Linked DNA regions of Homo sapiens. The protein of the gene in region 5 interacts with the protein of the main gene of each other region in a pairwise test. Each region holds a gene or a part of one and is shown on either strand. Other genes may lie near its edges.

Evidence for each region.
Region 1: the proteins of PRKCE (region 5) and MAP4K4 interact in a two-hybrid assay, tested with the Homo sapiens proteins (one large-scale study listed by BioGRID and IntAct).
Region 2: the proteins of PRKCE (region 5) and PDLIM5 interact in a two-hybrid assay, tested with the Homo sapiens proteins (one study listed by BioGRID).
Region 3: the proteins of PRKCE (region 5) and YWHAE interact in binary tests that used the Homo sapiens proteins (3 or more experiments, as listed by UniProt).
Region 4: the proteins of PRKCE (region 5) and SNCA interact in binary tests that used the Homo sapiens proteins (3 or more experiments, as listed by UniProt).

What each region holds. Positions count from the first base shown.
Region 1 is NC_000002.12:101,700,707-101,704,206, forward strand, and holds part of MAP4K4 (mitogen-activated protein kinase kinase kinase kinase 4), read left to right. Parts: intron 1-3,500.
Region 2 is NC_000004.12:94,652,306-94,659,552, forward strand, and holds part of PDLIM5 (PDZ and LIM domain protein 5), read left to right. Parts: intron 1-2,154; coding exon 2,155-2,335; intron 2,336-5,121; coding exon 5,122-5,242; intron 5,243-7,247. UniProt on the Homo sapiens protein: May play an important role in the heart development by scaffolding PKC to the Z-disk region. May play a role in the regulation of cardiomyocyte expansion. Isoforms lacking the LIM domains may negatively modulate the scaffolding activity of isoform 1.
Region 3 is NC_000017.11:1,345,999-1,351,969, reverse strand, and holds part of YWHAE (14-3-3 protein epsilon), read left to right. Parts: intron 1-5,971. UniProt on the Homo sapiens protein: Adapter protein implicated in the regulation of a large spectrum of both general and specialized signaling pathways. Binds to a large number of partners, usually by recognition of a phosphoserine or phosphothreonine motif.
Region 4 is NC_000004.12:89,719,852-89,726,380, reverse strand, and holds the end of SNCA (alpha-synuclein), read left to right. Parts: 3' UTR 1-2,282; downstream 2,283-6,529. UniProt on the Homo sapiens protein: Neuronal protein that plays several roles in synaptic activity such as regulation of synaptic vesicle trafficking and subsequent neurotransmitter release.
Region 5 is NC_000002.12:46,145,892-46,153,138, forward strand, and holds part of PRKCE (protein kinase C epsilon type), read left to right. Parts: intron 1-5,149; coding exon 5,150-5,338; intron 5,339-7,247.

The DNA.
Region 1 (3,500 bases), about 56 Mb from region 5:
GTTATCACACTTAGAAAAATGTCATATATTCACTATTAACGTTTTCTTGATTGTCTCATACATCAGTAAAATGTGTTTTTTTTTTTTTTTACTATAACAAGTTCTTTAATGTTTACAAGCGGGTACTGGGAACTTCAATCTTAGAAGTGGTGAAAATAGCAGAACATCTCTTTTTTTCCTCTTTTTAACTATTTAATTTCTAGAACCATTTACAATTATGTGTAGGAGTTAATTTAGGATTTTTGTTGGTATGATTTGCTTGTGGTAGATTTGGGATTACATTATTAACACTTTAGAGTTTGTTTATTGCTGCTAAACATCCTTTAGGATGAATAGCATTAAAGTTTGAGAAATACTTGTTGCTGAATTGTTATTTATAAAAAGGTCTTTATTTTTAAACATAATTTCAGGTAAAAAAAATCTGTAAGCTGAACAACTTGTCCTAATTTATTTTAGTGTCATATTTTCTATTTTTCATTAGCGCAGATGTTGCTTATTTTGAGGCAACTATATTTACATGAAGTGAGTGAGTTGAAAAGAGGGAGTTTTCTGAGATTTGATATGTCGTATGAAATAGCTTCTTTTGGGGCGAACGACTCTCCTGCAAAACTGTGCTAATGGTAGACCCCTCATTTATGGAAGAAAGGGAGGGGGAGGGGTGTGTGTGGCAGTAGGGCTAAGAGTGACCTTTGGGAATGGTAGAAAGGTTAGGGAGTAGTGGGAATTTCAAGGAGATGTTATTTGGACTTGAGGAGAGACATCTTCTTTAAGCATTGAGGAGCCACTGAAAGGTTTTGTTGGAATTGGGGATCCCTGAGAGTAGGGGACTTGATCCAGTTTTTTGGGGATAACTTCTAATTTTCTGTGTCTCTGACAACAGTGGTAAATGGTCTGGTATAGTTGAACAGTATGTAACTTCATCTTAAAAGAAGGAGGTGAAAAACGGGGTGTATTCTGTTTAGAGAAATTTATTTTCACCCTTAGGTTTTTGAGAGACGGATACTCATAAACTTAAAATTGTAAATTTCTCTTCACAAGGTTACATTCAGAGTACCATATATTTATAAGAGAAGTGTCTGGTATGATCAGTGAGGAGAATGATAGTGTGAAAAATTAAAACCAGAAATAAATCAAGTTTGTTTCCATGTTATTTTGGATTTTATTGTTATTTTGTTTTGAGACGGAGGTTTGCTCTGTTGCCCAGGCTGGAGTGCAGTGGCACCATCTCTACTCACTGTAACCTCCGTCTCCCGGGTTCAAGTGATTCTCCTGCCTCAGCCTCCTGAGTAGTTGGGATTACAAGTGCGTGCCATCACGTCCAGCTAATTTTTGTATATAGAGATGGGTTTTCACCATGTTGGCTAGGCTGGTCTTGAACTCCTGGCCTCAAGTGATCTGCACGCCTTGGCCTCCCAAAATGCTGGGATTGTATACAGGCATGAGCCACTGCACCCGGCCTTATTGTTATTTTAAATATTTATTTGACCATTTTTGTGTTCTTGGGGTAACTACTGTTATTTTGCATTTTGTGAGCATGTGATGGCTGGTGTTCCAAATGTCTTGAATAAAAGATTGTCAACCGGACGCGGTGGCTTACGCTTGTAAATCCCAGCACTTTGAGAGGCGCAGGTGGGCGGATCACTTGAGGTCAGGAGTTCGAGACCAGCCTGGCCAACATGGTGAAACCCCGTTTCTACTAAAAATACCGAAAAATTAGCCGGGTGTAGTGGGGGGTGCCTGTAATCCCGGCTACTCAGGAGGCTGAGACAGGAGAGTCACTTGAACCTGGGAAGTGAAAGTTGCAGTGAGCCGAGATTGTGCCATTGCACTCCAGCCTGGGCAACAAGAGTGAAACTCTGTCTCAAAAAAAAGAAAAGAAAAGAAGATTGCCAGCCTGAGGACAATTCTGAGTCTTGGAAGGACTGACAGAGGGGAAATCCGGTAACAGTAACGTGGAAGTCAGGGAGTTTAGAATCCAGCAGGTAAAATGTCTGAAATCAAGGTTCACTCAAAGGAGGGACCATAGATTTTGTGGAAGACTGACCCATTCTGATCTTGTCATTGGAGGAAGGGTACAATGTGGACCTTGGAGATTGAGGACAAGGGTACCCTAGGCCCAAAGACCTTGATGGTAAGGGGAGCTAACGCTAAGAGTTTGCTCATTCGATGCCCATTTGACACTGTGCTCATGTTAGACCCCTCATTTATTGAAGAAAGGGAGGGGAGAGGTGAGGTGTTTGTGTGTGGCAGTAGGGCTAAGAGTGACCTTTGGGAATGGTAGAAAGGTTAGGGAGTAGTGGGAATTTCAAGGAGGTATTATTTGGACTTGAGGAGAGACATCTTCTTTAAGCATTGAGGAGTCACTGAAAGATTTTGTTGGAATTGGGGATCCCTTAGAGTAGGGGACTTGATCCAGATGTGTGTTGGGAAGGAGCTGGTAAAATGGTTGGCCTTGGGCAGTGGTCCAGTGACAGGAGGTGAAGGCCGAGGCGGGATAGTGGCAGTGGTGGTAGAGAGGAGGAGAGGTTGGGGTGGATACTTGGGCATTACTCTTTGCTAGGTTTAACATGTTGAATTCACTCGTTCTCTGCAGGCTTTGGTATGTCCCTTTAAGTGGGTACACGGTTTGCCCACAGTATTAGGAGGAGCTTTGGGATTCCCAGCACTTTGGGAGGCTGAGACGGGCGGATCACCTGAGGTCAGGAGTTGGAGACCAGCCTAGCCAACATGGCAAAACCCCATCTCTACTAAAAATATAAAAAGTAGCCAGGCGTGGTGGTGTACGCCTGTAATCCCAGCCACTTGGGAGGCTGAGGTGGGAGAATCGCTTGAACCTAGGAGGTGGAGGTTGCAGAGAACTGAGATCATGGCACTGCACTCCAGCCTGGGCAACAGAATGAGACTCTGTCTCAAAAAAAAAAAAAAAAAAAAAGGCGGGGGTGGGGTGGTTAAAGTGCTAAAATTGCTTTCGATTGCTCAGTGGTAAAGTGCCATATAGATTGTCTGGCTTTTAAAAATCATTAGGGGCCGGGCACGGTGGCTCACACCTGTAATCCCAGCATTTTGGGAGGCCGAGGCGGGTGGATAACAAAGTCAGGAGTTCAAGACCAGCCTGTCAACATGGTGAAACCCCATCTCTACTAAAAATAGAAAAATTAGCCGGGCGTGGTGGCGCGTGCCTCTAGTCCCAGCTACCCAGGAGGCTGAGGCAGAAGAATTGCTTGAACTTCCCCAGGAGGTGGAGGTTGAAGTGAGCCGAGATAGCACCACTGCACTCTAGCCTGGGTGACAGAGCCAGACTCCTCCAAAAAGAAAAAATAAAATAAAAAAATTTGCATTTTGGAGCAAGTACTTAAACTTTTGTGAGGGATTCTCTAAGTGTTATCTTTTAAGTGTAGCATCTCTCGTTCTTAATTGGAGGTAAAGACATCCACTGGGGCAAAATGAATTTTGTAGAACCAGATGTTTTCATTAGGAGGAGATTGTGTCAGCTGATCTGC
Region 2 (7,247 bases), on a different chromosome or scaffold from region 5:
TGGCTTTGAATCTGTTTTAATGTGCAGCCAGAGAGTAGCATGAAACCCCAAAGCTCTACCATGCTCTGTGTTATGGTCACAGTAAATTGAGCCTGGAAGATTTTTCATGCGTGTATAACCAGTTGCCCACCTGGCGGAAAAACACAGGGCACTCATCAAACTTTGTCTGGCTTTGAGCAGTGTGATTCCTGGTTTATCTTTGCTGATAAACTACTTGCCAAACATACACTGAGAAAATTAGATGAAGGAACTCGTTGAATAGGATTGTTATTTTATAAGTCAGTTGAAAATGATGGACCACTTACCAAAAGTAATATATTCGATTACAGAATAGGTGATCTGTAGCCTTTCTTTTCTGGCAGGAATTAGTAAACAAAGGCATTCCTTATTAGTCATAACAAAATTATGGTACCCTAAAGTTTTAAAAATAATAATAATAAACTGCCTATCTCAAACTTAAGAGAATGATATGTACTAGCTTATACAAAATGGCATCATGTTATTAATAAGAAACAAGTTAACAAAAAGTAGGGCTAGAAAATACCCTCTTACACCCCACGTAAAAATTTTTAATCACTCATCAAGAGCCTTTCTCCTTTTGTGACTCTTGCAGAATTAGGTGCTGATTCTGAGTAAACATCAATATGGTGACAAAGAATTTACAGTGGGAGATAGTTATTGAATAGCAAGGTTTATGTTATTGTCAGAATTTTAAAAATGCTGTGACTTTGCGATACTCATTGCTATGACTTCTCCTGTTAATAATCTGCCTGGAAGTCTGGTGTCTGATGCTTACCAACAATTACCATGTGGTCGCTTAGGGATGATAAGTGATGTTAATGAGGTCAAAGGCAGAATATCAGTTGACTAGAGCGGCATACTAGAAATCAGGAAATTCAACTTCTGGCCTTGGCTGGGTCAGTGATTTTATGATATTTGTCATATCTTTTGAACATTCTGTACCTTGGCTTCTCCATCTGTTAAACTGAATTCATAATAACTGTCCTGGTCTGTCTCACAGGAATGTTGCATGGACAAATTAGATAAGTGTAAAAGTGCCTTGGAGGTAAAGCTGCTCTATGAATATAAATTAGTGTGATATAGCTACTGAAAAGTATGTTGCAGAGGCTAGAATGGTTAGTCTCTGCAGGCTTCATGACTAGATAAGGCTTCATAATGGATTCCTGCCAAGCAAACCAAGCCCATCTTATCAGTTCATGACCATAAAGTATTTAATGGGGAAAAAAATCTCTTACAAACATTTGTTACCTTGATACAAATGTGTGTTAAAAATCGGTCATGTTGGGGAGGGGGGAGAGGGAAGTTGGTGCACAGTGGGTATAAAATTTCAGTTATACAAGATGAATAAGTTCTAGAGATCTGCTGTACAACATTGTGCCCATAATTAACAATACTACATTGTACTCTTAAAAATCTGTTAAGAGAGTGGATCTCATTTTAAGGGTTCTTACCACAATAAAATTAAATTTTTGAAATAAATCAGTCATATTTGAGTGAAATGAAACCTTTCTGAGTAGTTTCAGACAATTGATAATACCTAGTTTACAGTTCCTGTAGTCATTTTGGAGGGTGAGGACTTGATGTGTTTAGTAAAGTTGAGAAATAAATACATGAAAGAATGTGTGGGGAAGAGAAATTGTGGGGAAGAGAAATTGTCTCAGGTAATAGTTATTACTATTTTTAGCACTATGACTTACCAAATTGAAGTTTTTGTTTGTTTCTTTTGTAGAAGTGTCAAAGTCTCATCTCTGCCTAAACCATATATTTTTTTCTGGTTGCCTCATGTTCTGTCACAGTCACAGTTAACATCCTCATTCTCAATCCTACCCATGATGCAGACAGATTGCCTCATTTCAGCTCAATAAAACATCACCAAATTCCCTTAGGCAGAAAAAGGGTGGGGAGTGCCCTTTCTTGAAGGAATCCCTTAAGTGCACGTCTCCCGTTTTCTTTTCACATCAATGCAGAGTCCCTCTGTGAATTTACAACACCCAACACCCATGAGTTCAGTCCTTAAGAAGGAAAATTGAGCAAGTATTTAATTGGTTGGACATTGCATAAAAGAGGTCCATATCCAGGCTAACTCTAGAAATTTTATTCTCAAACTTAGTTGGCCTCTTTTTCTTCTGTCAGAGGACCATTCTTAGTGGCACTGGGGAAATCTTGGCACCCAGAAGAATTCAACTGCGCTCACTGCAAAAATACAATGGCCTACATTGGATTTGTAGAGGAGAAAGGAGCCCTGTATTGTGAGCTGTGCTATGAGAAATTCTTTGCCCCTGAATGTGGTCGATGCCAAAGGAAGATCCTTGGAGTAAGTATTGGAAACGTTTTTATTCTGAATGAGTTTTAAAGTAGAATAATTTTTTGATATGAAAGTCTTCTATCACTTTAACTTTTTATTTTCTTCTTGCTTTATGCCCTCTCTGCTTTCGGCACTATTTATTATTGTAAAGCAAAACTAAATAGACCTCTGTGGAAATATATCGGACTCATGGGGTTAGGTTGTCTTTGGTTTTGTCTCACTGAGTGCTGGCTTGTCTGGTGAAAGTCTAGCCACTGTGGGGAAAAAATAATTTACTGTGGGTGTGCTTCCTCAACAGGAGCCTGTTTGCTCAGGAATGAAGAGGTCGCATAGGACCACACACATCTGAGTTCTTAGAACTGACACCTTCACTGTTTTAAATTAAATTCCATAGCTTTTATAAGAGCAGTATTTCCCTACTTGTCAGAGTTCAAGCACAGGACACTGATTTCATGAAATATATAAAACATGAGGTTTATAAATGATATATTTTTCTTGAATACATACAGTGTTTAAAAATATAACCTCAGTTTTATGAGAGTGCACATGTGATGGAAAAATAATTTTTTTTCCTTTTTTGCAAAAAAAGGAGTAATTTAGGAATCAGATACAGTACATAATAAATAATGAATACATGAATTTCTTGCTCTGGAATACCTAGTTTCCAATGATAAAGTAAGGGTCAGGCATACTTTATGGTGACTAGGAGCTGGAATCTGATTTCAGAAGAAGCCAGAGTACCTGGCTTCACACAAAAATTGGACATGGCCCTGCTGAACTCTAATATACTCTCAATGTGAAAATATGATAATGAAACTCTAATTATTGTTAATTGAGAGAATAGGTAGTATGAATTATTGAGTAGTCTTAAGATATCTCTTAGGATATCCTTAAATATGTCTGAAACGTTGAAGACACTTAAAATTATATATATGTCACCTGAAATATTTCTAGATTATTGATTTGTGTAATATGTTGGGAACAAAGAAGTGGAATGGTTCAGACTGTACCTTCCCAAATGATAACAAATAATTAATAGAATATTCATTAATACTGTTTTAGTGTATCAAGGTATTCTATAAATGTTAGAATAACAAAACAAAGTGAAGTTAGAGTCTTAGACCCAAATAAAGTTCTGGGAAATGGAAATCTCATACTCATTGCCTTGGAGATGGGCCAGAACTTCAATAGCTTGTCTAGATTGTATTTTAGTTATTTGATTACCTGTTAAAGATTTCTCTCAAGGATGGAAAGGGAAGAATATTCTGGAAGCCTTGGGAGATAGTTTGATTCAATATACATCTTCTACAAATGTTCATGGTGAATTTTTTGGATCTAAATGTCTGTTTCTTCCCATTGTCCTTCAGTAGTGAACTGTGACAATTTCTATGGCTAATAAGTCTATATTATTTCATTTTATTTTGATATTTTTTATAAAAGAAAATAGTTCACTCAAGCACAATTAGAAAACACAAAAAATTTAAAGAATAAATTTAAATGACCTAAATATTTACCAATCACAGATAATTACTGTTAACCTTATGATGTGTTTTTTTCTAGTTTGCTCTTTATAAGTAATGTGTTTACAAAATTGTAATCATGCTTTATGTATATGATTTTTTGTGATAAATATTATAGAAAGAGTATTCACTACTCATCCAAAATTATTTTAATGGCTCCATCTTTCTCTCAATCCAAAGAAATGATTTCTTGTAAAACCAACACCCAAAACCTCTTTTACTAACTAATATCTGGCCCAAATCTTTATAACTTGGTATGTTTAACCATTGGGCCATTGCTGACTAGAATATGGTCCAAATTTTACACATTCGAGTCTGTGCTTAGTGCCATCTTAGCTGATTTCCAAAAGCCTAAACACGTGTTAAACTGATTGGATTACATTATATTTTTATTATATTTTATTACATTATATACATTTATATACATTATATACATGTAATATATACAACTATATATAATTATGTATATTTTATTATTTTTATTTATTTATTTATTTTTTTGAGACGGAGTCTTGCTGTGTCACCCAGGCTGGAGTGCAGTGGCGCGATATCGGCTCATTGCAAGTTCCACCTCACGAGTTTATGCCATTCTCCTGCCTCAGCCTCCCAAGTAGCTGGGACTACAGGCACCCACCACCACGCCCAGCTAATTTTTTGTATTTTCAGTAGAGACGGGGTTTCACCGTGTTAGCCAGGATGGTCTCGATCTCCTGAACTCGTGATCCGCCCGCCTCGGCCTCCCAAAGTGCTGGGATTACAGGTGTGAGCCACTGCGCCCGGCCCCATTATGTTTTGTTATTAAATTATATATATTATATTATTGCTTCTAAAATGCACCAAAGTATAGGTTTGTTTTAATTTTTAAATGCTTCCTCCTTCCCCCAGAACTTTTGCAGATAATACCATAAAACCTTGGTAAGTTAATGTTTCCTGACACCCTTTGAGAAGAAGCAGAAAGTTTTGTAGCAAGCATTTATGAAATGCTTACTTTATTCACTGTACATATAATGTATAAATAACATAGTGATCATTCTTTAAGTTTATTGATTGGCATTTGTAAAGAACACACGTCTAAATATGCATCCGTTTAGATGATTTGTGAGTCTGTTCTTAAGTATCTCTTGTTACTTTGAGGGAAAGCTCAAGACAAAAATGAAGTATGTGTGCCTACTTTGGATTAGCTCTACAGGGATTTACTGGTACAGATATTAGAATAAACATTTATGTATTTATTGTCATCTTCTTTTTTTACATCCAATTACCTTTCTGTAACAGGAAGTCATCAGTGCGTTGAAACAAACTTGGCATGTTTCCTGTTTTGTGTGTGTAGCCTGTGGAAAGCCCATTCGGAACAATGTTTTTCACTTGGAGGATGGTGAACCCTACTGTGAGACTGGTAAGATCAGGGAGCCATTTGTTTCTTGAATTTTGAATAAAGGTAAAACATTAACCCTTATATTACTATAAAGCTCAAGAAAATATTAGGCAAAGTTATTTTCTTAATTGTTTTGGAAGCATTTAATGCTGCTCTAAGCATGTAGAAAAAACTATGTAGATTTTTTTTTTTCTTTTGAGACGGAGTCTCACCCTTGTTGCCCAGACTGCAGTGCAATGGCCCAATCTCGGCTCACTGCAGCCTCTGCCTCCCAGGTTCAGGCGATTCTCCTGCCTCAGCCTCCCGAATAGCTGGGAATACAGGCATGTGCCACCATGCTCGGCTCATTTTGTATTTTTAGTAGAGACAGGGTTTCGTCATGTTGGCCCGGCTGGTCTCGAACTCCCGACGTCAGGTGATCCACCTCCCAAAGTGCCGGGATTACAGGCATGAGCCACTGCGCCTGGCCCTATATAGACTTTTTAATGTGACTTTGTCAAAACAGATATTCCCAACTTTATTATTAGAATTGAGAATGTAAGCATTACTTAGTAGGAAAAATATTTTGCTTGAATTCCCAATGATTTGTGGATATAAATTCTACTAAATCATGTACCTTAAGTCCACTTCTTGTAGTCCAGTAGTGAATTTTGTAAACATCAGAAATGTTCCACTTTAGAATATGATATTGATTTGCCCTTTAAGGCGACTGCCTTGAAAATAAACTGGAGATCGTTTGTTACTTTTACTGAATGAGAAGGTAATCCTGACTTGGATTGTTCCCTTGGTAAAATGATTTTTAATAAACTAGACTAAAAGGACCTATCTACTGCATTTGTCTTATTACACAAACTCAGAACGTTTCCTTTTCCTTCCCAAAGTCTGTAAGTGAACTTTTATAACATTTATTAATAGTGCCCTTACTTAGATATTACTACCACATATACATGTTTCAAAATACAAAACATTTTTCCTTTATTGTGCCTCTATTCACTACCAGTGCATTCTCACTACTGAGTTTTATTGTTATTCTACCTTGAAATTCAAAGCTCTGTGCTGATAGAAGGAGGTATTCCAAAATAATGGAGTTAAAGGAGCAGTCAGCTTCTAAGTTGAAGCTGTGTCATCATCATTCAGCCCTTCTTTGCCCACTCAGTATTCTCTTATTTTCATCTTCCTTTCAGCTCCTTAGTTTAAACCAACCTGGATATATTCCAGACTGTCTCCCAGGAACCCCAGAAATTCCAGTGAAGTACCCCATGGGCTGTTTTGGGACAGGTTGGCCACAAGCTGCCTTCCTCAATTCAACCAGAATACTTCATATTTTGTAATTCCACTTAATTTTTCTGAAGAAAGGGCTGGGTTTTGTTTGTTTGTTTGTTTGTTTGGTTTTTAGTTTGATTTGTTTGTTTTAGCAGCTTTGGAAGACATTTTGACTAACTGGCAGGTAGCCCATATCTAGCCAAAACACATAAAACAGTCTAGCCTTAATACCTATATTTAATGTATTTGAAGTCATATTTTAAATACTAAATAATTACTTATAGGAAAGGAAAAACATTATTGAATATTTATTTAAATGTCACATCTAATCAACTTGGTCTGTTTTTGTTCTTTTTCTTCTTTTAACCTCCAAACCATTTCTTAACCCAGTTTCCTCTATCTCAATAAATAACCCCATCGTCCACTATCCAAAAACCTGCAGGCCATGTTGGATTCTGCTTTTCCCCTTGTTCTTTCCTTATCCAATCTAAATAGGAAATTCTGGCAGCTCTACCTCCAACGTATATCATATTCATTTATTTCTCTCCATCTCCACTAAAGCTAACTAAAGCTAAAGTCACTGAAGCTAACTTGCTTTCACCCTTTTTCTGGACATTGTAATTGGCACCTAAATGGTATAGCCCCTCACCTTCCTTCCAACCTCCAAACAGCAGGCATAGAGCAGCTGTAGTATATATGTGTGTATGTGTGTGTGTGTGTGTGTGTGTGTGTGTGTGTGTGTGTGTGTGTATTGTTTAGACGG
Region 3 (5,971 bases), on a different chromosome or scaffold from region 5:
TTTAAAAAAAAAAAAAATGCCGGGTGCAGTGGTATGTGCCTGTAATCTCAGCTACTTGCAAGGCTGAGGCAGGAGAATTGCTTGAACCCAGGAGGTGGAGGTTGCAGTGAGCTGAGATCACGCCCCACTGCACTCTAGCCTGGGTGGCAGAGCGAGGCTTCATAGAGCAGGACTTTGTCTCAAAACAAAAAACAAAAACAACAGCCAGGTGTGACAACGCATGCTTCTCAGACGGCTGAGGTTGGGGGATCTTGAGGCTGCAGTGAGCTTCGATTGCGCCACTGTATTCTAACCTGGATGACTGAACGAGATGCCATCTCTTCAGGGAAGAAAAAAAGTTGTAACAACAATTATGAAGAAGAATGGTCAAACAGCTGTGGACTCGTAATGGTCATCCCCAGCTCAGATGCTAGTATCTCTCTGCCTGTTGATGGAGGGAAAGCATGCGGAGAGTTTGGGGCGCGGGATTGACTTCAGGAAATGATACACCTCTCACCTCTGGGGACATGTTTTTGAGAGTAAAAGTAATAAGTAATGAAAGTGACCTGACTTGAAAGTTTTTTCTGTGTGTGTGTTTTATTTTTTTTTTTTGAGATGGAGTTTTGCTCTTGTTACCCAGGCTGGAGTGCAGTGGTGCTCTCTCAGCTGACTGCAACCTACATCTCCTGGGTTCAAGTGATTCTCCTGCCTCTGATTCTCCTGCCTTATCCTCCCTAGTAGCTGGGACTACAGGTGTCTGCCACCACCACTCCTAGCTAATTTTTTGTATTTTTAATAGAGACGGGGTTCCACTATGTTGGCCAGGCTGGTCTCCAACTCCTGACCTTGTGATCTGCCCATCTCGGCCTCCCAAAGCGCTGGGATTACAGGTGTGAGCCACCGCGCCTGGCTGATTTTTTGTTTTGTTTTGTGAGACGGAGTCTCTCCCTGTTGCCCAGATTGGAATGCAATGGTGCGATCTCGGCTCACTGCAACCTCTGCCTCCTGGGTTCAAAGGATTCTCCTGCCTCAGCCTCCTGAGTAGCTGGGATTACAGGCGTGCGCCACCATACCCAGCTAGTTTTTTGTTTGTTTAGTAGAGGCAGGGTTTCACCATGTTGGCCAGGCTGGTCTCTAACTCCTGACCTCGTGGTCCACCTGCCTCGGCCTCCCAAAATGCTTGGATTACAGGCGTGAGCCACTGCGCCTGGCCATTTTTTTTTATTATTATTATTTTAATAAAAACATATGCTGGGCACAGTGGCTCATGCCTGTAATCCCAGCAGTTTGGGAGGCCGAAGTGGACGGATCACCTGAGGTCAGGAGTTTGAGACCAGCCTGACCAACATGGAGAAACCCCGTCTCTACTACAAATACAAAAATTAGCCAGGTGTGGTGGCGGGCACCTGTAATCCCTGCTACTCAGGAGGCTGAGACAGGAGAATCACTTGAACCCGGGAGGCAGAGGTGCAGTGAGCCAAGATCACTCCATTGCACTCCAGCCTGGGCAACAAGAGCAAAACTCTGTCTCAAAGAAACGAAACAAAACAAGAAAACACATTTGATACCAACTCATAACCAAGTCTGGATTACTTCTGTAGCTCATTATCACTGATAACCAAGAGTTGATTAATCAAAGTAGACTACCTGTCAGTCTATGTACAGAACTAAAGATAATCCTTATTCTTGGTTGTCGAGTACAGTTTTAGGAAATGGATCATCTTAAAATAGGGTAATACGGCCTGGTGCAGTGGCTCACGCCTATAATCCCAGCACTTTGGGAGGCCGAAGCGGGTGGATCACCTGAGGTCAGGAGTTCGAGACCAGCCTGACCAACATGGAGAAACCCCATCTCTACTAAAAATACAAAATTAGCCAGGCGTCGTGTCACATGTCTGTAATCCTAGCTACTGGGGAGGCTGAGGCAGGAGAATCGCTTGAACCTGGGAGTTGGAGGTTGTGATCAACTGAGATCGCGCCGTTGCACTCCAGCCTGGGCAACAAGAGAGAAACTTCGTCCAAAAAAAAAAAATACAGGGTAATACTTTCGCAGTTTTTAAAAATCTAGTGAAATTCGGCTGGGCGCAGTGGCTCACGCCGGTTAATCCCAGCACTTTGGGAGGCTGAGGCGGGCGGATCACGAGGTCAGAAGATTGAGACCATCCTGGCTAACACAGTGAAACCCCGTCTCTACTAAAAATACAAAAAAAATTACCCGGGCGTGGTGGTGGGCGCCTGTAGTCCCATTTACTTGGGAGGCTGAGGCAGGAGAATGGGGTGAACCCAGAGGCGGAGCTTGCAGTGAGCCGAGATAGCACCACTGCACTCCAGCCTGGGCGACAGAGCAAGACTCCGTCTCAAAAAAAAAAAAAATCTAGTGAAATTCATTTGTGTTCAATTCCTTATTGAGTCTGTAAATCAGTTGATTAAATTTGGTTAAGAAGAGTAATTTTCACTTAATTTTTATTAGGTGAAATACTTTTTATTTATATAATGCTTCCAGTCATGAAATAGTTCAACAGTGAAAAATTCAGGTGGTCTGTTGACATTCCGGTACAACTAACAAACTCTGAATACACAAATAATTGTGGGTACAAAGAAATTGTTCATCAGTTTGAGAAGTTGAATTTGTCAAAAATTAGAGTTTTTGAGATGGAGTATCACTCTGTTGCCCAGGGTGGAGTATAGTGGCGCAATCTCTGCTCACTGCAGCTTCCACCTCCCGGGTTCAAGCGATTCTTCTGCCTCGTCCTCTCTGAGTTGCTGGGACTACAGGTGCCCACCACCACGCCTGGCAATAATTCGTATTTTCAGTAGAGACAGGGTTTCCCCGTGTTAGCCCGGATGGTCTCAATCTCCTAACCTCGTGATCCACCTGCCTCAGCCTCCCAAAGTGCTGGGATTACAGGCCCGAGTCACCGCACCTGGCCTAGTATTACATCTTTTTTTTTTTTCCTTTTTTCGTGAGACAGAGTCTTGCTTTGTCACCCAGGCTGGAGTGCAGTGGTGCTATCTTGGCTCACTGCAAACTCCGCCTCCCGGGTTCACGCCATTCTCCTGTCTCAGCCTTCCTGGTAGCTGGGACTACAGGTGCCCGCCACCATGCCCGGCTAATTTTTTTTTGTATTTTTAGTAGAGGCGGGGTTTCCCCGTGTTAACCCGGATGGTCTCAATCTCCTAACCTCGTGATCCGCCTGCCTCGGCCTCCCAAAATGCTGGGATTACAGGCGTGAGCCACTGTTCCCGGCCTACATTTTTTAATAAATTGGTTTTGAAACTGCAATGGTGCCTGCCTGTAATCTCGGCTGTTCAGCAAGGTGAGGCAGAAGGATCACTTGAGCCCAGGAGTTTGACACCAGCTTGGGCAAGATAAAACTTCATCTCACAAAATAAAATACTACTTTTGTGACTTGGGTTCCGTGGTGAATATAGGAGAATCGTCATGAAAGTGGCAGTTTACTAGGATGTGACTTTGCATTTAGTTTAAGGATTATTTAGATTTTTTTGTTTTTTAAAGAGACGGTATTTATGTCTTTTAATTTTAGAATATGTTAATGTCTGTCCCAGCATGTTGGAACATAATTTCTTTAAAGGGAGGGATCATTGCTTTTTCTCAAGTGATTTTAGTCTCTTCACCCTGTGGTAAGAGGATTGTTTCATATACGAATCCATAGGTAGGAAATACATGTTCTCCCTGCCTGTTCCCCTCTCTCCAAAATGTAGATACACTGGGCAAAGAAACATAGCCAAGGAATCCTTTTTCCCCTAATATCTGTATGTCTTTCAAGAGGATATTACTTCCTTCTCAGAGTAGAAGGGAGGAGGAGTAGACAGATTGTTGCTTAGAGTGAAGTTTACACGAAGTAAGACCAAAGTCCGGCTCCTGTATCATTGTTTTCCTTTGTCCTGCTCTGTTGGTTTATTTTTCTTGTAATGTTGCTTTCATATGATTGTTCTCCCTCCCTTTTTCCTTGCAATATAGATTCCTAAAGGAAAACCCAACTCTTCCTTTCCTAAAAACTCTACTTTGTAAGTCACGTTCATGGCACAGTGAATTCCGCTTTCAGTTTTGGTTCTTCACTAATCATGCCTGCGTATGATCGTCCTGTTGCTTACAGACTCTGCCTGTTCCACCTTCCAGGGCGCTGACCTAAGCCTTTTCCGGCCTGCTCCTCCTGCCTACTGTGGTTGGATGTGATGTATATGACAGTGACATTTTTATGCCAAAGTTACTTGGAACTTCTGGCACATCTCATGGTTGCTTACAAGCGAGTTGTGTTCTAGTGTTTGTGTTAATGATACTTTGGCAGTGATTTGCTGTTAGAGTGAATGTTCCTATCATGTTTCCTACGTTTGAATACGTTATTGTCCTTTGGAGAACAGTTGGGTGCCCATCAGTTCTTTCATCCCTAAGCAATTTTTTTTTGCCTTTGCATATTTTTTTTCTGTCTTATGAATTAAAGATCTTCATGTATTTTAAGTAGTTTTAAAATTTTATACATTTTTTTGAGACGGAGTTTTGCTCTTGTTGCCCCGCCTGGAGTGCAGTGGCGTTCAAAGCTCACTGCAGAAATAGAACTCCCCCACCTCAGCCCCCCAAGTAGCTGGGACTATAGACATGTGGCCCCATGCCCAGCGTATGTAGTTTTTTTTTTTTTTGAGACGGAGTCTCGATTGTCGCCCAGGCTGGAGTGCAGCGGCAGAATCTTGGCTCACTGAAAGCTCCGCCTCCTGGGTTCACGCCATTCTCCTGCCTCCCGAGTAGCTGGGACTACAGGCGCCTGCCACCATGCCTGGCTAATTTTTTTTTTTTTTTTTTGTATTTTTAGTAGAGACAGGGTTTCACTGTGTTAGCCAGGATGGTCTCGATCTCCTGACCTCATGATCCACCTCTCTTGGCCTCCCAAAGTGCTGGTATTACAGGCGTGAGCCACCATGCCTGGCTCCAGCATACATAGTTTTTTACTTTTAGTTTTATTTATTCTTTTTTTTTTTTTTTTGAGACGGAGTCTCACTCTGTTACCCAGGCTGGAGTGTAGTGGCATGTTCTTGGCTCGCTGCAACCTCCGTCTCCTGGGTTCAAGCAATTCTCATGCCTCAGCTTCCCAGGTAGCTGGGATTACAGGCATGTGCCACCACGCCAGGCTAATTTTTTGTATTATTTTTTCAGTAGAGATGGGGATTTACTGTGTTAGCCAGGATGGTCTTGATCTTCTGACCTCGTGATCCGCCCGCCTTTGCTTCCCAAAGTGCTGGGATTACAGGCGTGAGCCACCGTGCCCGGCGTTATGTTCATTTTTTGTAGAGACAGGGCTTCACTGTGTTGCTGAGGCTGTAAGTGGGTTTTGAAGTCACACAGCAATGTCAAGCGTTTCCGCCGCAGAAGAGATTTGAAAACTACTGAAACCTTGATGCTGTGACATTTGTCATTTTGAGATCATTTAGGCTGTTTCAAAGCTGTACTCAGTGTAAATGCTTCATGTGTGTAGGCAGCTAGTTTGGTGTTATTTGTCCATCCTAATTAAATAATTTAACAAGCATTATGAATGGATAGTCATTTGAACATTTATGATTCTTGGGTTGATTTTTCATTTATTTTGTTTCAAACTAGTTAACTGTGTAGTAATTGTAAGTGGTTTTTTTAAAAAAGTACAAGTGAATGTAACTTTTACCTGTTACATCATTTTTAAGGGAAAAGCCTGCATGCTTCTTTATTTTGGCTGACTTGTTTAATGCATACTAATAGGTAGATGACCCTCCAACCAATAGGTGGCTTTCTGTTGCATGTCATAGTGCAGTTGAAACTCCTTAGGGTAATCACCCTCTTTAAAGGCAAAAGACAAATAGCATGAGTGAAGTGGTCCAAATGCCATTCTTTAATAACCTCAGTGGTCTGATTTACTTTGAGCATGCTGTGTTTCACTCTGAAGTAAAATCTGATTATAGTTTGGTGTATCTGGCCAAGATACAAAAGCTGAAATATTTATAACAG
Region 4 (6,529 bases), on a different chromosome or scaffold from region 5:
CGATGTTAAAACAAATTAAAAACACCTAAGTGACTACCACTTATTTCTAAATCCTCACTATTTTTTTGTTGCTGTTGTTCAGAAGTTGTTAGTGATTTGCTATCATATATTATAAGATTTTTAGGTGTCTTTTAATGATACTGTCTAAGAATAATGACGTATTGTGAAATTTGTTAATATATATAATACTTAAAAATATGTGAGCATGAAACTATGCACCTATAAATACTAAATATGAAATTTTACCATTTTGCGATGTGTTTTATTCACTTGTGTTTGTATATAAATGGTGAGAATTAAAATAAAACGTTATCTCATTGCAAAAATATTTTATTTTTATCCCATCTCACTTTAATAATAAAAATCATGCTTATAAGCAACATGAATTAAGAACTGACACAAAGGACAAAAATATAAAGTTATTAATAGCCATTTGAAGAAGGAGGAATTTTAGAAGAGGTAGAGAAAATGGAACATTAACCCTACACTCGGAATTCCCTGAAGCAACACTGCCAGAAGTGTGTTTTGGTATGCACTGGTTCCTTAAGTGGCTGTGATTAATTATTGAAAGTGGGGTGTTGAAGACCCCAACTACTATTGTAGAGTGGTCTATTTCTCCCTTCAATCCTGTCAATGTTTGCTTTACGTATTTTGGGGAACTGTTGTTTGATGTGTATGTGTTTATAATTGTTATACATTTTTAATTGAGCCTTTTATTAACATATATTGTTATTTTTGTCTCGAAATAATTTTTTAGTTAAAATCTATTTTGTCTGATATTGGTGTGAATGCTGTACCTTTCTGACAATAAATAATATTCGACCATGAATAAAAAAAAAAAAAAAGTGGGTTCCCGGGAACTAAGCAGTGTAGAAGATGATTTTGACTACACCCTCCTTAGAGAGCCATAAGACACATTAGCACATATTAGCACATTCAAGGCTCTGAGAGAATGTGGTTAACTTTGTTTAACTCAGCATTCCTCACTTTTTTTTTTTAATCATCAGAAATTCTCTCTCTCTCTCTCTCTTTTTCTCTCGCTCTCTTTTTTTTTTTTTTTTTACAGGAAATGCCTTTAAACATCGTTGGAACTACCAGAGTCACCTTAAAGGAGATCAATTCTCTAGACTGATAAAAATTTCATGGCCTCCTTTAAATGTTGCCAAATATATGAATTCTAGGATTTTTCCTTAGGAAAGGTTTTTCTCTTTCAGGGAAGATCTATTAACTCCCCATGGGTGCTGAAAATAAACTTGATGGTGAAAAACTCTGTATAAATTAATTTAAAAATTATTTGGTTTCTCTTTTTAATTATTCTGGGGCATAGTCATTTCTAAAAGTCACTAGTAGAAAGTATAATTTCAAGACAGAATATTCTAGACATGCTAGCAGTTTATATGTATTCATGAGTAATGTGATATATATTGGGCGCTGGTGAGGAAGGAAGGAGGAATGAGTGACTATAAGGATGGTTACCATAGAAACTTCCTTTTTTACCTAATTGAAGAGAGACTACTACAGAGTGCTAAGCTGCATGTGTCATCTTACACTAGAGAGAAATGGTAAGTTTCTTGTTTTATTTAAGTTATGTTTAAGCAAGGAAAGGATTTGTTATTGAACAGTATATTTCAGGAAGGTTAGAAAGTGGCGGTTAGGATATATTTTAAATCTACCTAAAGCAGCATATTTTAAAAATTTAAAAGTATTGGTATTAAATTAAGAAATAGAGGACAGAACTAGACTGATAGCAGTGACCTAGAACAATTTGAGATTAGGAAAGTTGTGACCATGAATTTAAGGATTTATGTGGATACAAATTCTCCTTTAAAGTGTTTCTTCCCTTAATATTTATCTGACGGTAATTTTTGAGCAGTGAATTACTTTATATATCTTAATAGTTTATTTGGGACCAAACACTTAAACAAAAAGTTCTTTAAGTCATATAAGCCTTTTCAGGAAGCTTGTCTCATATTCACTCCCGAGACATTCACCTGCCAAGTGGCCTGAGGATCAATCCAGTCCTAGGTTTATTTTGCAGACTTACATTCTCCCAAGTTATTCAGCCTCATATGACTCCACGGTCGGCTTTACCAAAACAGTTCAGAGTGCACTTTGGCACACAATTGGGAACAGAACAATCTAATGTGTGGTTTGGTATTCCAAGTGGGGTCTTTTTCAGAATCTCTGCACTAGTGTGAGATGCAAACATGTTTCCTCATCTTTCTGGCTTATCCAGTATGTAGCTATTTGTGACATAATAAATATATACATATATGAAAATATGTATTTGGTTTCTGCCTCCAGTTCTTACAAAGAGCTCCTAAAACCCTTGTAATTTCCTGAGTAGTAGGGGTGCTAGGGTCATCTTTTGTTCTAATATTTGGTCTTTGACTCTGCTTTCTGACAGAGCTCCTTAGTCCCTGGGTGAGAGTAGCATCTTCTCTTCTAATGAAGTGACTCTTGCTGGGTTCCTGGATGGGGGCTGGTCACCAGAAAGGTCAAGCCATGATAAGAAGCTTGAAGCTTTTGGCCCCATTCACATCTTCTGGGGACGGGAGAGAAGAGGAGCTGGAGATTGAGTTAATAAGCAACAATGCTTCCATGATGAAGACTCCATAAAAATCCCTAAAAGACAGGATTCAGAGTGCTTTGAAATAGGTGAACATGCAGAGGTGCTGGGAATTGTGGTGTGTCCAGAGAAGGCATGCAAGCTCCCCACGCCTCCCCCATACCTTTCCCTGTGCATCTCTTCCATCTGGCTGTTCCTGAGTTGTATCCTTTTATAACAAACTGGTAATCTAGTAAGCAAACTGTTTTCCTGAAGTCTGTGAATCACACTAGCAAATTATCAAACCTGAGGAGAGGGCCGTGGAGACCTTGGATTTGTAGACAAGTCAAACAGAAGCTATGAGTAACATGAGGACTCATTGCTTGTGATTGTCATCTTCAGTGGGAAGGGGAAAAATCTTGTAAAACTGAGTCCTTAACCTGTGGGTCAATGCTAACTCCAGGTAGATAGTGTCCGATTTGAATTACGGGACACCCAGTTGGTAGCCACAAAGAATGGGAGAATTGCTTGGTGTAGAAAACACACCCCACACACACATGTGGTGTCAGAAATGAACCGGAAATATTGTGTTCCGGAAATATTGAGTGTTGTGAGTGAGTGTATAGAAAGAAAAACAGCGTTTCCTTTTCACTACTAGATTAAAACAAACACACTCATGCATTCACACATCTCAAAGACAACTATTAATTCTCAAAGACAGTGCTGTCTAAATCCATACTGAGGAAGAAAACACATTTTCTTTTCAAATCTGTAAACCTGACAGACTGCCTCTGTCCACACACTAATGGAACTCTGTGTTTCATCTGAAATGTGTTCATCCCACTTTGTTCTTTCTGTCTTGGGCAGGGCAAGAGTGCAACAGGGCTGACATTTTCATATGAGCTCTGTCCCTGTTATTGGCTATACTTTAGACAAATTATTATGTGTCAAATATAGATGTAAGTGATTTATCAATATTAAGTCATTTAATTCTCAAAACAACCTTAATAGGTTCCATTATGATTCTAATTTTACACATAAGCCAAAGGAGGCACCCACAGGCTAGATAACTTTCCCACGGCCACACAGCTAGTAAGCGGCAGAGCCAAGAGGCCCAACATTACAGCACCACAGTCTGTGCTCTCAGCCCCTTGGCCACATAGTGTCAGAGTGAGGACACACAGCTATTTAAGAAAACTTCCAGAAGTCTAGGAAATGGGGTGATAGCCCCACTTTTCTAGGTATAATAATTAGATATTTGTTTTTCTTCAGGTACCTAAAGAAAATTTACTAGAGTTTGAGCCTTTAGTAAGTTTTGCTAGTACATCTGTTTTTCTTCAGGTGCCTGAAGACAAACATATACACACACACACACACACAAACACACACAAAATGTGTATCTATATATATGTGTACACATATCTCTCATCTCTATATATATGTCTCTGTATATCTATATATCTATAAACATATCTATATCTATAGATACATATAGAGAGATTTCTTTTTTTTTTTTTTTGAGATGGAGTCTTGCTCTTGCCACCTAGGCTGGAGTGCAATGGCACAATCTCAGTTCACTGCAACCTCCGCCTCCCAGGTTCAAGCGATTCTCCTGCCTCAGCCTCTCGAGTAGGTGGGATTACAGGAACACACCACCTTAGCCCGACTAATTTTTGTATTTTTAGTAGAGACAGGGTTCACCACGTTGGCCAGGCTGGTCTCAAACTCCTGACCTCAGGTAATCCACCTACCTCGGCCTCCCAAAGTGCTGGGATTACAGGTGTGAGCCACCATGCCTGGCCAAGATTTCTAATTCTAAGAGAAATTAGCACCTGATAGGTATTTCCTTGTAAATAAACCGGGCATATCCTGATTATAGAACTAAGTTAATTATTTTCCGTGGAAGATACGAATGTTGATGCAATAAGAGCAGCAGTCTACAGTAAGGTGGGCTTTGTAATTTTCTGTGTTGAATCATGGCATGGGTACTTGGCTTATGTCAAATAGACAAAAAAATATAAATTAAGGTATAACTGGGATTGTCAATTATACATATTTAGTAATGGAATGAATGAATTTATAAATAGATAGTAAAGGGCATGAATTAAGAATCTATAGGTATAAATAATATTAGCAACTTAATATTGTATAATAAAGTTTGATTTTCTAGGTGTAGTTGATTGATGCAGTAATGTTCGTTTTATCCTTTGAGTAAGCCTAGAATTGAAGAACCCAAAATGCAATAGAATAGATATAACATTGAAACTATTCCTAAATATGATTTTAGTTCCAATGTTCTTTGTGTAATTACCTAAGCTTTTCTTTAATGTTTTTGCTGCTACTACAGTATCCTTAATTATTTGAAATCTTATATTGGAAGCAGTTAAACCACATTCCTTCAAAGAGCCCTTAGTTTGAGCCTCTAGTAAGTTTTGCTAGTATAATTTGGTTTTAAAATTGGCTAGAATTGCATAGGGAATTTCCATAACGTATAGTTGATCTGCAACTATAGGTTAACATACTAGGATGGCTTCTCTTATGAACCTTATGAAAATACATCCTCAGATTCCCTGGAAGGTCAGTGACCAGAAATCCTCGTTGTTTCTATGGCAACACAGCAAGATATGGTGCCTTGGAAATGTGCTGCATTTTAATTAGGTTCCTCTAGGGCTTCCTAACTGCCTTTTGCAGGTAAACTAAATATCAGATTGCCTTTTATCTTGCAACAAAATGAAACCTAACCCATGTCTGTAAATGTCAAAGCTAAGCTGTGTTCCAGTAAAGCTGAATCCAAACAAATATAGTAGCAAGTCATGTTTTTATCTTAGAAAAGAATACAATACTCTTTACCTAGAATAGTCAAGGATGCTGCTTAATGAGGTAGGTTAGAGTAATAGAGACTATCCTGAACTCCAAAACTATTAATAGACTATGGAACTTCGACTCCCATTTATGTCTCTTACTACTTAATATTAGTGTCTCTGTTTCCTTATATGTAAATATGCAAATGATAAAAATAGTGCCTCATAGCATTGTTGCATGCATTAAGTGAGTTAATGTAAGTGGAATACTTAGGACTGCCTGGCTGATAGTAAGTGATCTATGAGTCAATGATGCTATTTATTAGTAGTAGTACTAGTACAGCACACTGTATTTTTAAAGGTAAATAAGAAATAACAATTTTTTTAAATGTTCATATACATTCACATGTCTTCTTTTAATATAAAATAGCAATCAAGATCAGGATAATGGTAGAGATATTTTGGAGACACAAGGCAGAAGCTATTTACTAATAGCTAGGGGAGCATTTTACTAGTTTACTAACCAATATTACTATACTTATGTGTACTTAGCAGAATATCACCTAGCACCAAAAAGAAATTAAGAAAGTGTAACTTACTGAGAAGTGAATATGCACCAACTCCATAAACACTATGTTTATGGAACACATCTAACTTTAGACTTAGCTATACTCATCGACTCACATATCTTCTCATCCAAGTGGGATGTGTTTAATATTTACCATATATTCATAAGTTCACTGAGTATTGTTCTGGTAACTAGAAAAAAAAAAGGACAAGCATATATAAGTAAAACTCACTGATTTAAAACAGAGTATTATCAACTACAAAAGAAAAAAAAAACCACTTGAACCTCCACTGATTTCTCAAATCTCATTTATTTCCCATTATCTTCCCTCATACCTCTTGCATTTATTTGGTTAAATTTCTTTTTGATCCAAAAGGAAGCAATGTTTACCTGACAATTTCTACTTTATGCCAGAACAACAAATGTACCAGCAATTACAATATTTCCAAGAAAAGTATTGTTTGTTTTCTCTTCATGTCTTTGGTGAGTCTCTCGGAATTAGGATCAAAAAAGAACGCATGAGCTGGTGAGATGTTTGTTATTGTCCTCTGTCAGATTTTCCTGTGCAGCAGTGTGGAAAGTAGGTAAGTAGGGCAGTGCATACTTGTCCTT
Region 5 (7,247 bases):
AATCAGAATAAAGGAGCATCATTGATCATGGGAGCACTTCACTTTATCAGCTACAATTTGCTAACAGTAAAACTAGGAACTGTTTGCTATTTCCTGCATAGTGGCAGTTCTATGCTGTGAGTACACAGGATGGAGCAGGAAGAGGAGAGTGACTGTGCCTCATTATATACAGATATCAGAGATGTTCACTGTGAACCACTCCAATAGGTTGCCTTTCCTGAAAGTTGTTTGGGATGTTTTGCTCAGCATGAAGTGTTTGTTTGCCTTATTCCTGCCCAAACTGAGAGATAACTAGTGTGATGTGATTCAGATTTAAGACATGGCCTGTCATAGACAATCAAAATGATCTTCATGGTTCTGAGACATGTAAGATAGGAAAGAAGTACCAATCCCCACTAAACATCGCCCATGGCGGATAGGTATTAGCACATTCAGAGCTCATTTCTTTCAGTGGGCATTGTTTGAGCACGTGCTAGGCACAAAGCAATGTGGAGATAAAGAACTGACTGAGACACTTGTCCCTATTCTAAAGAAGCTTTTGGTCTAAAGGGAGTGATAGATAAGTAAACAACTAATTAAGCAGAATAAATAGGCACATAAAAGAAGATGGTATCCTCAGGGATCAGGAAAGGCTTCTTGGAGCACCTGGTGGATGAATTGAGTTGTAAAGAATGAGGATTTCCTTTGACGGAAGGGGTGGGGAGGGTATTCCTGAAAACAACAGGATTGGAACGGGGGCAGGACAGGAAAGGAGGTTCAGTGTCCCTGGGCCCTGGATCCTTTGAGGGCAGGGTCTGTGTTTCTAATCTGGGTACTGCCAGGATCCGGCACACAAATCAGGATCTTAGAAAGGTTTGTTAAAAAATGACAACTTATGACATTCCAACATGAGCAAAGGCCAAGGGACAAAAACATCTTGGTCTTTTCCAGGACAGTTAAAAAGTGTAGCTAGATCATAGGGTTTCCTGGTGCTCATAGTAATGAATGAGATTGGGATAAAGACCCAGTGAATGTGGCTTTGATCCTGTAGGATCTGTGGACCCACTCAGGGTTTCAGTGGAGGAGAGTCCTAGTCAGATCCATCCCAGGAAGAAGGAAGGCCACAGCTGTGCAGATCAGAAGGCAGGGAGTGAGGGACTGATGGTCAGGAGGCTTCACAGACCACACAAGACAGGGGAGGCCTGAGGAACATCTCGAAGTGAAGGTGATGAGTAATAGGTAGTTTCCCTTTAGAACCTTTATCTTCTAAGAGATCTAAAGAGTAGGGATTTCAGTCTTTCTGCAAATGTATTTCCTTAGCAAGAACACTAGGAATTCAGCCTTCAAGGAGCAACAAATGAAAGCAAGAGCTTTCGACAGGGAACTGCTTTTCTCGTGTTCTTCGTTCATTCTTCATTGTCAGAATACTTAGTTCCAGTTCCTCTCTAAGTTGATGCCATCATTCATTCTTCATTGTCAGAATACTCAGTTCCAGTTCCTCTGTAAGTTGATGCCAGAGCCTAACAGTTGACAGCCCATGTTATAGTTAAGGACCCAACCCAAGACAGAACATTCACTTTATAATGAACAAAATAGCCACTCAGCTTTCATGAAAAGCAGTCCATTGGTGAGACTCACAATGAACAACTCTGATCTCTGTTCACAATGAAGCACAGACACTCTTCCTTCCTGCTCTGGCCTTCGTGCCCACCGTGCAGAAACATCTCTGCACTGGCAATGACAATCCCTGGTCTTGCTGTAGGCAAATTACAGCTGATAAAGGTATTGCTGCCTTCATCGAGGGCTACTGGGAAGATTAAATGAGATTATGCCTCTAAAGCATTAGCCCAGTGCCCAGCCCACAGGGAGTGCTGGCTAAATGGTGGCTTCATGGTTATCATCATTGTTGGGTTGTGTGATGGGATAGGAAACGCAATCCTGAGAATTGAGTCTTGAGTCCAGATTTGACCACAAATGTACACATGAGCATTTGATGACTTGATGAAGTCACAAAATGTTTTTGAGTCTCAGGTTTCTCATCTTTCACATGGGAGCCATAACTCCTTCCCTACCTACCTCATCAAGCTGCTTTGAGAATCTAATGAGATTAGAGCATGGAAATGCTTGAGAAAGCAGAAGCCTCCATTCAAATGGGAGAGGTGGTAAGGTGCTGAGCTAACCTCAAAACCAGAGACAGCTTTGGAGGCATGAGGTCTGCCCCAAGGCTTATCTTCCTGCCACATGATATGCCCCATGGCACCCCCTCTGCTTTCCCACTCCCAGCCCCTGCTTCCCAGGAAGTGGCCACCAGCCTTTGGTAATAGCATCATCAGGGCCAATGCCTTCTCCCTTCTCCCTTCTCCCGAGCTCTGACGCACTTGAGGGGTTGGCTCCAGGTGACTTCCCGTGACATGGAAGCCTTGCCCTTCTGCCCAGATCCACTGCCGACAGTTAATTAGGAAGCAGATAATTAGAGCCAAGCCTAAAAGGAATCTTACAAAAGATGCCACCCAAAATGAGAAGGCTGTGGAAGGGGCCTGGAGTGGGGTGGCAGGGCGGCTCTGTGGTTTCCACAGCACCATCCAGTCTCAGCACACACAAGCCACCTTCTCCCCACCCCCTGAAGGCACAGAACCCAGCTGCCTCCTTCCGAGAAGCTGGAGGGCAGCCACTGTAGCACCCAGTGTGCCCTGAGGCTAGAAGAGAAGGGAGCATGCCCAGTAGATACACACAGTGGCCATGCATGCTAGCCAGTCACAAGATGTTGACTGTCTCCTGGATGATAGAACAGGCTGGCCACAGCACTGGGCTCAGTAGCATGTTACAGCTCCTACCCTCTGGTACCTTATAGTTGCACTGGGGAGACCGCTGGCCATGAAAAAATAACTAACGACGTAGTGGTATGTGGAAAGTGAGAAAGTGCCTGCAACTCGTAGGAACAGGCAGGGGTCTTAAGTTGGGCGCTGTGTCTTTTGAGGTTGAGGGAGGAGTTGGCATTGGCTTTGGAGCATAGCAGAATCACTGGCTCCTCAGGACAGTGGAGCCCATAGCTTTGACCTTACAGCTCAAGGAACACTAACCACTGGGCTTAGACCAAAGGTATTAGCTAAACAGATTACCAGCCCCAAGTAATGTAGAGTTGGCTGCATTTTCTCAAATTCCTTTTCATTCCAAATTCAGAAGATTCTAAACTGTGAGTGTTTTAACTGTTTCTAAATGCTTCTTCTATCCAAATCTTTCTAGTTCATCCTAAGCAATTTGTAACCTCTAGAAGGGTATTTTGAGCAGACCACAGAAAGTCCAGATACTTGAATTCAGCCTCCTCTTCCCTGGCCACCATGAAATCTGAGAACTAAATTGGAGCCTTGTCCCCAGCCTGAGATATTATCTGCCCAAGGTGTCCCATGGGCTGGAATGACTAGGCATGAACTTTGCCTTTTTTTTTCAGGGTCCTCAAAGTGTTCCCCCTTGCAGGATATGCACTCCAACCTTGTTTCTCCTTCCCTTTTTAAAATTCTTTATAGAATTATGGACCTGGATAGGTCATCTCATCCACCCTCCTGTTTCTGGGCAGAGCCATGCCTAATCCCACTCTAATAAGAAGAGAAAATAATTGTGGAATGGGAATGTCACCTCATGATCTCTTCCTTGTAGAGTGGACAGCTCAGCATTTATTTTTCCTCTGAGCCAAACACATCATTGATCTGCTACATATTTATTTTATTTATATATGTTATATTTTAAAGGCATACTGTAAAATACAAAGCTCTATACAGCTGAAAGGTGATATTAAATTCTAGTCTTTTCTATTGGATGTCATCTCCATATATATATATATGTATTTTTATATATATGTATTTATATATATGTATTTATATATATATGTCATTGACATGCTACATATTTATATGTGCGTGTGTGTGTATCATGTATTTATGACATATGTGTATGGAGAGCAGATCAAATAGAATAGCCAATCAGAAAAGATCCTTTTTTTTTTTTTTGAGATAGGGTCTCACTCTGTTACCCAGGTTGAAGTGCAGTCGCATGATTATGACTCACTACAGCCTCAAACTCCCGGGCTCAAGTGATTTTTCCACCTCAGCCTTCTGAGAAGGTGAGACTACAGACACGTACCACCATGCCCAGCTAATTTTTTTTAAGAGACAGGGTCTTACCATGTTGCCCAGGCTGGTCTCGAAGTCCTGGACTCAAGTGATCCTCCCACCTCAGCCTCCCAAAGTGCTAGGATTACAGGTGTGAGCCATTGCGCCCAGCCAGAAAAGATGTCTTGTATTCAGTAGCATCATGTCATACATGCATTTAATCTAAGTGAATTTGACTCTACATATTTGGCTAGAGGAAAAAGAGAGACAGCATAGATAAGACAAGTGACCATTGTCAAAGACAAAATGCACCAGACAATCAAGGAGATGGTTCGATTCTGGCTATTGCAATAGGGGGTTCATTAGTGAAGGTGGCCCCAAAGGAAGGGGGCCTACGGTTTTGTAGAGGCAGGCAAAGTGGGGGATTCTTCAGTGGATCTTATGGGAATCATGATGAACAATAGAGATGGGTTTTTTCTTAGAATATGCAAGAGTATAGTGGTCCTTTATAGGGAGACCATTACAGGGTGGGGGAGACTTATTCATTGCAGTTTCCTCTCCAGGAGCACAGGGCTCAGGTAAATTGAGTGTTGCACCATTTAAAGAAGACCTCTGCTCACCTTTCCACTCAGGCAGTGAGCTGTGCCCTGGACTGTGTGAGATGGGAGACCTGACCTCGCTGCACTCTGAGTCACTTACAGCTTGTTCTCTCAGTATGCATCGTGCTCCCCTGACCCTGATTTTAGTGTCAAAATATGCAGTTTTTTAAAATGTGGCCCTCATGCCAGTCAGGAACTTTATCTGGTGCTCAAAGAAATAGGAATTTGTTCCCACTGGAAGACAGACTGTCGATGTTGACTTTGGAAAGATGATAGCTGGCCCCCAGCATAGTGCCTCCAAACTCAACTGTCACTGAATTTGCTGATTTAGAACTTCTAGGACTAGGACTCAACTGTAGGGAGGAGCAAGTTGGAATTGAAGTCCTTCCCATGGGCGTTCGTAGCACGGGTGTCACTGGGGTGGGAGCCTTTGATGGTGCCTGACATTGCTGGTTTCCTGAACAGATCCTGCAGGAGTTGGAGTATGGCCCCTCCGTGGACTGGTGGGCCCTGGGGGTGCTGATGTACGAGATGATGGCTGGACAGCCTCCCTTTGAGGCCGACAATGAGGACGACCTATTTGAGTCCATCCTCCATGACGACGTGCTGTACCCAGTCTGGCTCAGCAAGGAGGCTGTCAGCATCTTGAAAGCTGTGAGTCACTGCCCCTCACCCATGGCTGTGCTCTCCTGGGCTCCTCCCCCTACACACACACACACACACACACACACACACACACACACACACACTCCCTTCTCCCTTTCTCTGTCCAGCTTTCTCCCTCCCACCTCTGCTCATCACCACGGAATGGGAAGGATTAAGGGCAGTTGCCACTGGGAGTTCAGGCACAGTGCAGAGGACTGCTGCCAAGAGAATGGGGCCTGAGATGACTTGCTCTTCTGGTGGGAAGAGGAGCGCATGTCTGTGCTTCCTGAGATGAGGCACTGTGTACATCTGTGTCCTCCAGCATTTCAGAGGGAACAGAAGCAACTCAACTGTGCTGACATCACCTCTGCCACTTCCATACCTTCCTTACCTGTGGCCTGTCTTCATCAGGGACCTGTGATGGAGAACAGAGAGGAGGGGAGGGAGGGTGGGCACCGCCCACCTGTGTCCACGACAGCATCACTGTGGCTCAAGAGCCAATCAGAAAAGATCTGGTACACTGGAAATTCATGCAGTCCTGCTGGATTTAGATACATAATACAGAGACTGACCCTGCCCTAGGAATCATCCCTCACATGGGAAAACCCCTTATGCTTTCTCAGCACAGCCATCTCTACGATGTAACAATGCTTGTACTGTGTCAAGCAAGTGATGTTACCTGTCCCCTTTTGAAATCCGTGAAAGCTGAGGTACAGGGAAGTTAAGCAAGCAGTCTGCCCAGGGTCACCCCTCTGAGCTAAGATAGGATGAGGGTGACAACCCAGGGACCATGACTTCTAGACTTGGCTTCTTCCACTCATCTGAATGCCCCAAAATTCAATCATTTGCACATTATAGTCACAAAATTTGCCATCTTCAAGTGTCTTCTGCACTATTACTAGCTTTTCTTGTTCTTTTAATCAACTTCCAATATTTACCTGATTATATGTATTTTACAAAGAAATTTTTTTTTTTTTTTTAGACAGAGTCTCACTGCAATGGCCAGGCTGGAGTGCAATGGTGCTATCTTGGCTCACTGCAATCTCCTCCTCCCAGGTTCAAGTGATTCTCCTGCCTCAGCCTCCTGAGTAGCTGGGATTACAGGCACCCGCCATCATGCCTGGCTAATTTTTGTATTTTTAGTAGTGACAAGATTTCACCATGTTGGCCAGGCTGGCCTTGAACTCTTGACCTCAGGTGATCCGCCCACCTCAGCCTCCCAAAGTGCTGGGATTACAGACATGAGCCACTGCGCCCAGCCTGTATTTTACAAAGAAATTTTATACCATTATCGTAGGTAGAAAATCAGTATCACTTGCCATAATGAATTAATGTAATTTTTTTTCAAGATGGAGTGTTGCTTTGTTACCCAGGCTGGAGTGCAGTGGCGTGATCTCGGCTCACTGCAACCTCTGCCTCTCGGGTTCAAGAGATTCTCCTGCCTCAGCCTCCCGAGTAGCTAGGATTACAGGCGCCCACCACCATGCTCAGCTAATTTTTGTATTTTTAGTAGAGATGGGGTTTCGCCATGTTGGCCAGGCTGGTTCCGAACTCCTGACCTCATGATCCACCCACCTCGGCTTCCCAAAGTGCTGGGATTACAGGTGTGAGCCACTACACCCTACCTAATGTAAATTATTGTATAAAAATTTTTGAAAGATCTAAAACCATTTTGTAGGTATCTGAGGGTGCATGTACCATGTTTTAGAAAACTCCACATCAGAACATGTTACCCTTTTCTGTAGTTTTTTTTTCCTCCTTCCTTTCCTCTTTCCCTCACCTCATTCCTTCTCTCCCCTCTGCCCTTACTCTCCTCCCTCTCTCTTTCATTCATTCATTCAATGAACTACTATCTATTGAGCACTTCCAACATGCTAGGCATGGTGCTAGATGCTGAATAAGTATTGGTGAGACCTGG